Regions from separate parts of the Homo sapiens genome. Here region 2 is linked to region 1. The links come from fine-mapping of genetic effects on gene expression. A gene starts in region 1. The other region holds a variant in brackets. All regions are shown on one strand. Distances are from middle to middle.

Region 1 (4,218 bases):
GACTTTGCTTGTGCTTAGAAAAAAAACACAAGTGCAGGCTGGGCGCGGTGGCTCACGCCTGTAATCCCAGCACTTTGGGAGGCCAAGGCGGGCGGATCACAAGGTCAGGAGTTGGAGACCAGCCTGGCCAACATGGTGAAACCCCATCTCTACTAAAAATAAAAAAAAAAATTAGCTGGGCATGGTGGCGCATGCCTGTAGTCCCAGCTACTCGGGAGGCTGAGGCAGGAGAATTGCTTGACAGGGGGTCGGAGGTTGCGGTGAGCCGAGATCACGCCACTGCACTCCAGCCTGGCAAGACTGCAAGACTCGTCTCAAAAAAAAAAAAAAAGAAAAAAGAAATACATACGCCTGTATTGACACAGAAGGTCCTGGAAAGACACAGAAAAATGGGAACAGTAGTTACCCCTATGATGGAAACTGAGGGCTGGGGGCCAATAGTAGGAAAGAACTTTCTTTTCATAATCTAAACTCCTTTGTATCTTTAAAACTTTCTGCCATATCAACAAGTTTAAAAATAATTTTAAAACAAAATACAAAATAAAAACTGAACAGTCCGGGTGCGGTGGCTCACACCTGTAATCCCAGTACTTTGGGAGGCCGAGGCAGGTAGATCATTTGAGGCCAGGAGTTCGAGATCAGCCTGGCCAACATGGCAAAACCCCATCTCTACTAAAAAAAAAAAAAAAAAAAAAAAAAATTGCAGGGTGTGGTGCACATGCCCTGTAGCCCCAGCTACTTGGGAGGCTGAGGCAGGAGAATCCCTTGAGCCCGGGAGGTGGAGGCTGCAGTGAGCCGAGATCACGCCACTCAACTCCAGCCTGGGCGACAGAGTGAGACTCCGTCTCAAAAAATAAATAAAATAAAAACAAAAACTGAACATTCATGATGATGAAAAATCAAAAGTAACCTACATGCCGTCCACAGGGGAAGGCAGCAGCCTGCAGCCAAGGGTGAGGTTGATCCCTGCTTGCAAAGGCAGACGGAGCTCCAAGGCCGACTATGGGAAAAGGGCGCCACAGAACAATTCGTGCGATGAAAAACCTCACGCGACGTTCCCTTTTCCTGTGGATAGATCTGCATCTATGCACAGGGCAGACAACTCCCAACACGGCCAGGGGTGATCCCTGTGCTTGCTAGAACTGGGGGTGGCAAAGACAACTTCAGATGTTCACGTAACTTTTTTTTTTTTTTTTGAGACGGAGTCTTGCTCTGTTGCCCAGGCTGGAATCCAGTGGCGCGATCTCGGTTCACTGAAACCTCCGCCTCCCGGGTTCAAGCAATTCTCCTGCCTCAGCCTCCCAAGTAGCTAGGATTATGGGCACGCACCACCACGCTCGGCTAATTTGTTTTTTTTTATTTTTATTTTTTCAGTAGAGACAGAGTTTCAACCATGTTGGCCAGGCTGGTCTCGAACTCCTGACCTCAGGTGATCCACCCGCCTCGGCCTCCCAAAGTGCTGGGATTACCGCCACCGGCCTTGTTCGTGTAATTTTGTATTTTCTCATGATGAATACATCCCAAACTCATTTTATTTTATTTTACTTTATTTTTTAAAGGCTGGAGACTGATGAAATGTCAGCAGTAGTTGCTTTGGTGTGGTGAACAATGCATGATTTTAATTTTTTTTTTCCTTTTTCTACTTTTCAAATACTCTACAACGAGCAGATCTCGAATGCCCAGCAAAAGCTAAGCTCCGCGAGGCGGCCCTGGAATGAGGCGACCCCGGAATGAGGCGGCCCCCGCGAGCGCCAGGCCCCCGCCCAGCGCTCACTTACTTGTCTGGGACGCCGGGTGCTCCTGGCTTCTCTGGAAGGGGTACCTGAACAGCAGCTTATTGCCCCTGCTCCCCGAGCTCACCAGAATCACGCTGATGGGGCTGGTGTTGTCCCGCATCCCGCCGTGGGGCCGGGGCCGGGGGCGGAGGGGGCCAGAGGAGGACGGAGCCGGAGGCGGAGGGGGCCTGAGGAGGACGGAGCCGGAGGCGGAGGGGGCCTGAGGAGGACGAGGCGGGGACGCAGGGGGCCTGAGGAGGGCAGGGGTGGAGGCGGAGGGGGCCTGAGGAGGGCAGGGGTGGAGGCGGAGGGGGCCTGAGGAGGGCAGGGGTGGAGGCGGAGGGGGCCTGAGGAGGGCAGGGGTGGAGGCGGAGGGGGCCTGAGTAGGGCAGGGGTGGAGGCGGAGGGGGCCTGAGGAGGGCAGGGGTGGAGGCGGAGGGGGCCTGAGGAGGACAGGGGTGGTGGTGGACGCGGAGCAGCGCCACAGTTACCAACCCACGTGCCACGCTCCGGGCTCGCGAGACTTCGGCGACACCGTCCGGAGGAGGTGCTAAGGCGGCGGCCGGGAGAACGGCGCAGGCGCAGGCGCAGGCGCAGGCAGCGGAATGCGCAGGCGCGGGGCCTTCTGGAAGCCACCGAGTTCCGCGGTGCTGTCTGGAGCCGTACGGTTCGCGTTTGGGGCACAGGGGCCCCTCTTGCTGGTGCGGATGGGAAAGGCGCGGGGTCGAGTCAGCGTCCCTCTCGATGTTGGTTTCTTCGTTTTACAAATAACACTTGGGCGGGGCGCGGTGGCTCACGCCTGTAATCCCAGCATTTTGGGAGGCCGAGGCGGGCGGATCACGAGGTCAGGAGATCGAGACCATCCTAGCTAACATAGTGAAACCCCATCTCTACTAAAAATTAGAAGAAATTATCCGGGCGTGGTGGCAGGCGCCCGTAATCCTAGAGGAGAATCGCTTGAACCCGGGAGGCGGAGGTTGCATTGAGCCAAGATCACGCCATTGCACTCCACCCTGGGCGACAGAGCGACGAGACCCCGTATCAAAAAAAAAAAAAAGAAAGAAAGAAAGAAAAAAGAAAAAAAAAAGGCCGGGCGCGGTGGCTCACGCCTGTAATCCCAGCACTTTGGGAGGCCGAGGCGGGTGAATCACGAGGTCAGGAGTTCGAGACCATCCTGGCCAACATGGTGAAACCCCGTCTCTACAAAAAAAAAAAAAAAAATTAGCCGGGCGTGGTGGCGGGCGCCTGTAATCCCAGCTACTCGGGAGGCTGAGACAGGAAAATCGCTTGAACCCGGGAGGCGGAGCTTGCGGTGAGCCGAGATTGCGCCACTGCACTACAGCCTAGGCGACAGAGCGAGACTCCGTCTCAAAAAAAAAAAAAAAAAAAAAAAACACTTGGAAGCCGACAGGAGATCTTTGAGACCTTGGGCGAGGCAGTGACACTAAAGGCAGGAGCGACTACAGAAGAATAAATTAAACTTCATCAGATTAAAAACTTTACTGCGGCCGGGCGCGGTGGCTCACGCCTGAAATCCCAGCACTTTGGGAGGCCGAGGTGGGCAGATCATGAGATCAGGAGATCTAGACCATCCTGGCCAACATGGTAAAACCCCGTCTCTCTACTAAAAATACAAAAATTAGCTGGGTTTGGCGGCGCCTGCTTCTAATCCCAGCTACTCGGGAGGCTGAGGCAGGAGAATCGCTTGAAGCCGGGAGGCGGAGGTTGCAGTGAGCCGAGATCGTGCCACTGAACTCTGGCCTGGCGACAGAGCGAGACTCCATCTCAAAACAAAACAAAAACTTCGGTGCTTTAAAGGACACCATCAAGAAAATTAAAAGTCCACCCACAGAACGGGAGAAAATATTTGTAAGTTACATATCTGATAAGGGAATTGTATCTAGAATGGAGGAAACTTACAACTCAACAATAAAAAGACAATTGAAAAATGCACAAAGGATATGAATATTTTTCCAGTGCATTATGCAAATGGCCAATAAGCACCAGAAGATGCTCAGCTCAACTGGTAGAGGCTTACGCCTGTGACCCCAGCGCTGAGAGGCCAGGAACTCCAGACCAGCCTGGGCAAAACAGAAATTAAAAATGCTCAACATTATTAGGCATTAGGGAGATGCAAATCAAAACTACAAATAGATGCCACATCACACCTCCTACGATGGCTGTAATCAAAAAGACAAGCGTCAGCAGGGGTGTGGAGAAACGGGAATCTCTCTCCTGCTGGTGGGAATGTAAGAGGCTACACTCGCTATGGAAAACAGGCTGGCAGTTCCTGAAAGGTTAGAGTTAACACAACACTCGGCAAATCCCCCTTTTAGATATATAGCCAAGAGAAATGAAAGCATATGTCCACACAAAAACATGTGTGTTCTTAGTAATATTATTCATAATAGCCCAAAGTGGAAGCAATCCTAGGGTATATCAA
Region 2 (4,500 bases), 46 kb before region 1:
CCCTGTGACTGCTTCGCTGAGCAAACCCCCCACCCTGTGCTGCTGCAGCTGCCCCTCTGCCTCCTCTCTTCTTTGGCCCACTGGCCCTGGAGTTGGACCCAGCCAGCAAGTCCACCTCCACACAAGCCCAGACACTGTTTAAAAAGAGGCTGTGGGCAGGTACCCTGAGAGCAGAAAGTCCTCTCCTTGGATCTACCTGAAAGTCCACCCTGAGCACAAGAGTGGATCCACAAGAAAGCTGAGGCCAGTGACCCTGGGCTTGGGGGTGGAGCACCCCACCCCCACCCCCACCGTGAGAAGGCACGTCCTGGCCAGGCCCTCCAATGTCTCTGGGTTAGCAGGTGGGGCTGGCAGTGAGGAGCAGTGAGGAGCCTTGTGCCAGGTAGAGTCCAGTCCCCATGAGAAAGTACTGCCCAGACTCAGGCGTTGAACAGTAAGGAGTGTGAGACACATCAGTGTCCTCAGATACACATCTGTCTACTCATCTCTGGGAGGGTCAACAAGGAGCTGCTGGCCAGGGTCACCTCCTGGGAGGGGGCTGGGGAACTGGGGATGGGAATGGGGGATATATCCCAGGCAAGTAAGAAGACTTGGTCAAAAGGACTGCAAGATATCCAGACTTCACATGAATTTAAGAAATAAAACAGACGCGGGTGGATCACTTGAGCTCAGGAGTTCGAGACCAGCCTTGCCAACACAGTGAAACCTCATCTCTACTAAAGATACAAAAATTAGCCGGGTGTGGTGGCACACACCTGTAATCCCAGCTACTTGGGAGGCTGAGGCAGGAGAATCACTTGAACCTGGGAGGCGGAGGTTGCAGTGAGCCAAGATCACGCCACTGTACTTCAGCCTGGACAACAAAGCAAGTTTCTATATCAAAACAATAAAAAAAAAGCTGGGCGTAGTGGCTCATGCCTGTAATCCCAGCACTTTGAGAGGATGAGGTGGGTGGATCACCTGAGGTCAGGAGTTAGAGACCACCCTGGTCAACACGGTGAAACCCCGTCTCTACTAAAAATACAAAAAATTAGCCAGGCGTGGTGGCGGGCACCTGTAAACCCAGCTACTCGGGAGGGTGAGGCAGGAGATTGCTTGAACCCGGGAGGCAAAGGTTGCAGTGAGCCGAGATCATGCCATTGCACTCCAGCCTGACGTGCAATCAAAATTAAATAAAATCAATAAACCAAAAATAAAACAGAGGGGCTTCCCAGCACTGGAGCCCAGGCAGAACCTGGCTGACCTAGGCCCCTTGACAAGGCCTGGAGCAACCACTCAGTCATGGCCTGGAAAAGCCACTCCGTTATCTAGACCACAGGAGGCCTCTGAGAAGGGAGCACCAGCAGCTCCTCCCTAAGCACTGCCCCAAGAGCAGGGGTGCAGAGAGTGCCTTTTATTCAGCTGGTACAACCTGGCTCAGCTCCCAGAAACCAAGGGCTCTGTGAAAGACCGCACTGAGAGCTCTGTCAGGTTTAGCGTCTAACGGAGCTGAAAAGCCAGAATCGTTCTCATTCGTAATTTGAGAACGGAAAGGGTTTAACTTTAAGGACTGGTTTTGCCTAATAGATCTGGCACTTACTCAGATACTTCTGGAGACAAAGACTTGAGAACACCCAGCTCGTCTGTCTCCAACACCGTATCCTATCTGGCCCTGCTCTGAGTCTCTGCCCAGAACTCAGTGGAGGGGAGGATGGCAAAGCCACCTCAGCACAAGGCTATGACACCTGCAGCCCACAGGGGAAGCCACTGGCCCTGCCACAGATGCAGGTGCACCAGTTCATCCCACAGACCTGCAGGAGGCCTCCTATCCCCCAGCCACTCCTAGCTCCCAACCTGCCTGCCCGTTGCCCTGATCCAGGCCCACTAGGGTCCTCTCTAGGCTCTCTTGAATGAGGAGATTCTGGGGACCAGTGACCCCAGAACTCATACCCACAGACCCTGTGGCCACCTGAACCATGGCAGGGAGTGAAGACAGAAGCAGAACTCTCAGAGGGTCAGGCCTGGCCCAGTGAGAACAAAACTGCCTTTGCACCCTCATCTGTAGGCAGTCCCCAGTCCCAAAGGGGTACAAGGCAGGTCTGTAGGCCCAGAAAAGGTAAGCACTCTCCTGCTTAACTCGGTTCTAACACTAAAAACTGCCTGCCACAGCCAGGGTGGGCTCTATGGGGAGGGAACAACTGCTCAAGTGTTGGGTCACTGGCCAAGCATCTGCAGGTGGCCCGGCAGCTGACTTTTGGGTCCTGCTGGGCACGTAGCACTTGCACGGCAAGCCCCCAAAACCAAGGAGAAGCAGGTGGCAGTGCTGAGGGCTCTCAGATCAGAACCAACAGCCAGGCAGGTAGTGCCTATCCACTACACACCTGCCACTCTGGGCTCCTTGAGCTTCTGTGACTCACCTCCTGCACAGCGGGGGCCAGGGGATTCCTAAATTCTGACAAGGAGACCGGCAAGGAGAACTTGGCAAGAACGGACGGCAGGTCATGAGATGGGAACTGGTGGGAGAACTGCTCGGCCAGCGGGGAGTACCTGCAGGCAGGTGAGCATGCCAGTGAGTGCAGCAGACCCCCCCACCGTGTTCTCAACACTGGCCTCAGTGGGCAGCAGAGAAGCAAAGTGTGGCAGGTGGG[T/C]CAGGACAGTGCGATGAGGGCAGAACGGTATGAGGCCAGGCAGGCCTCCAGGTGGACAGAGCCTGGGCACTTCCCCTTGAGCAGCAGCAGGAGCCATGGGCACAGTTCATCCTGCATCTCACCTCTGATCCCTCAAGGTGGATTAGAAGAGCCAGCCTGGAGGAGGGGGCCAGGCATATGGGGGACACAGGAGAGCCACAGAGCACAGAGCCAGACCAGAATTGGGACCTGGGTATGCTAGTGGCCAGGAGTTAGGCTGAAGTGAGAGCCTGGCCTTGGGGCTTCCACAGCCTTTGGTGCCTGGCCAACACAGAGAACAGCATCTGGAGGGCCCTGCCAGCCTCACCCCTTCCCACTCGGGGCTCCAGGCTCTGGCAGCCAGCAGCACTCACAGACATACGCTGGCATTGGGAGACAGCATGTAGACGTTGTTCTCACACAGCGGGTAGATGATGATGGCCTTGCCCCAGTACACCAGATGAGCTGCAAGCTGGAAAACCTGCAGGCAAAAGGGAAGCTGCAAGGACCATGCCTGAGGCTGGCCCACCGGGAGCTGTCAGCAGCTCTCAGCCTGGGTGGCCATGGCCTACCAGCCTGGAGAAGCTGGCCCCAGCCTCATGCAGAACACACCTGGTGGCTATGGCCCGAGACTTCCTCCCTAACGTGGAATAGCACCTTCGCAACCTCTCACTAGGATGTGGGGCACAGCCAGCACACAGCACTTTCTGTGAGCAATGGTTTTTTTTTTTTTTTTTTTGGAGACAGTCTTGCTCTGTCGCCCAGGCTGGAGTGCAGTGGCACAATCTCAGCTCACTGCAACCTCTTGCCTCCCAGGTTCAAGCGATTCTCCTGCCTCAGCCTCCTGAGTAGCTGGGATTACAGGCACATGCCACCACGCCCAGCTAATTTTTGTATTTTTAGTAGAGACAGGGTTTCACCATGTTGGCCAGGATGGTCTCGATCTGACCTCGTGATCCACCCACCTTGGCCTTCCAAAGTGCTGGGATTACAGGCATGAGCCACCGCACCCGGCCACAATGGCCTTTTTGTCACTGCTCCCTGTGCTGTTTGGTGGCACTGTTTTCCCATCCTATGCTGTCTTGACTCCCACTGAAGAATGGTGGTCTCAGGCCACAAGCATGGGAATGTCTGGGGTGCTGGGAACACAGTGCTGGCCCAGCTGGGCAGGGGGCTTAGCTGGATGTCCTGGCAGGGGCACAGCCCTCTTATACCCCCTAAAACTCCAGCATGGCCTTGCCCGATGATGGGTGTGGAGTCACTCAGCATGCCACCCCTACATACCCAAAGGCCCCAGGTCTGCCCCATGTGCCCCGACTCCCACAGAGACCCCCCTCCCAGCTTTGCTCTTGTGGACCCTTGAACATCAGGAAACACAAACACAACCCAAACCCCTTCCAGAGGAAAGCTCAGGCCTGAGGTCTGAGAGCACAGCACCCCAGCACTTCACGAAAAGGTGTGTGAAATCCTAAGCTCTCGCACTTCTGCCTCTGCATCAGCCCAGGACACCACTCCACCCTCTTGGCGGGTAGGCCTCTGTGGAGGTGAGTCACCCCTGCCTGGACACCGTGCTGCCCTGCTGCTGAGGACACTTATACCTCAGCTCAGAAAACAGGGCCTCCAGACTGAGTGAGTGGCTCATGCCTGTAGTCCCAGCATTTTGGGAGGGCAAGGCAGGAGGATCGCCTGAACCTCGGAGTTCGAGACCAACCTGGGCAATATAGTGAGACCCTCATCTCTGCCAAAAATTTTTATTTAATTAGCCAGGCACTGCGGCACATGCCTGTAGTCCCAGCTACTTGGAGGCTGAGACAGGAGGATTGCTTGCACCTGGGAGGTGGGGGTTGCAGTGAGC

Evidence for each region. PIP is the estimated chance that this variant, and not a neighbour inherited with it, causes the effect.
Region 2: its variant is the best candidate, but not a certain one, in a credible set for the expression of NPRL3 in whole blood (INTERVAL, PIP 0.78).

The regions. Positions count from the first base shown.
Region 1 is chr16:136,372-140,589 of GRCh38, forward strand. NPRL3 (NPR3 like, GATOR1 complex subunit) reads right to left here and starts at 2,302. Exons shown (of 14, transcript NM_001077350.3): 1 at 2,271-2,302; 2 at 1,779-1,963. The coding sequence starts at 1,896. RefSeq lists a silencer at 1,732-1,961 and an enhancer at 2,182-2,231.
Region 2 is chr16:90,200-94,699 of GRCh38, forward strand. It overlaps NPRL3 (NPR3 like, GATOR1 complex subunit), which reads right to left. Exons shown (of 14, transcript NM_001077350.3): 10 at 3,020-3,126; 11 at 2,397-2,526. Among named protein-coding and RNA genes, the nearest start is that of MPG, 14 kb to the left of the region's middle. The variant T/C (reference allele first, on the strand shown) is at 2,628.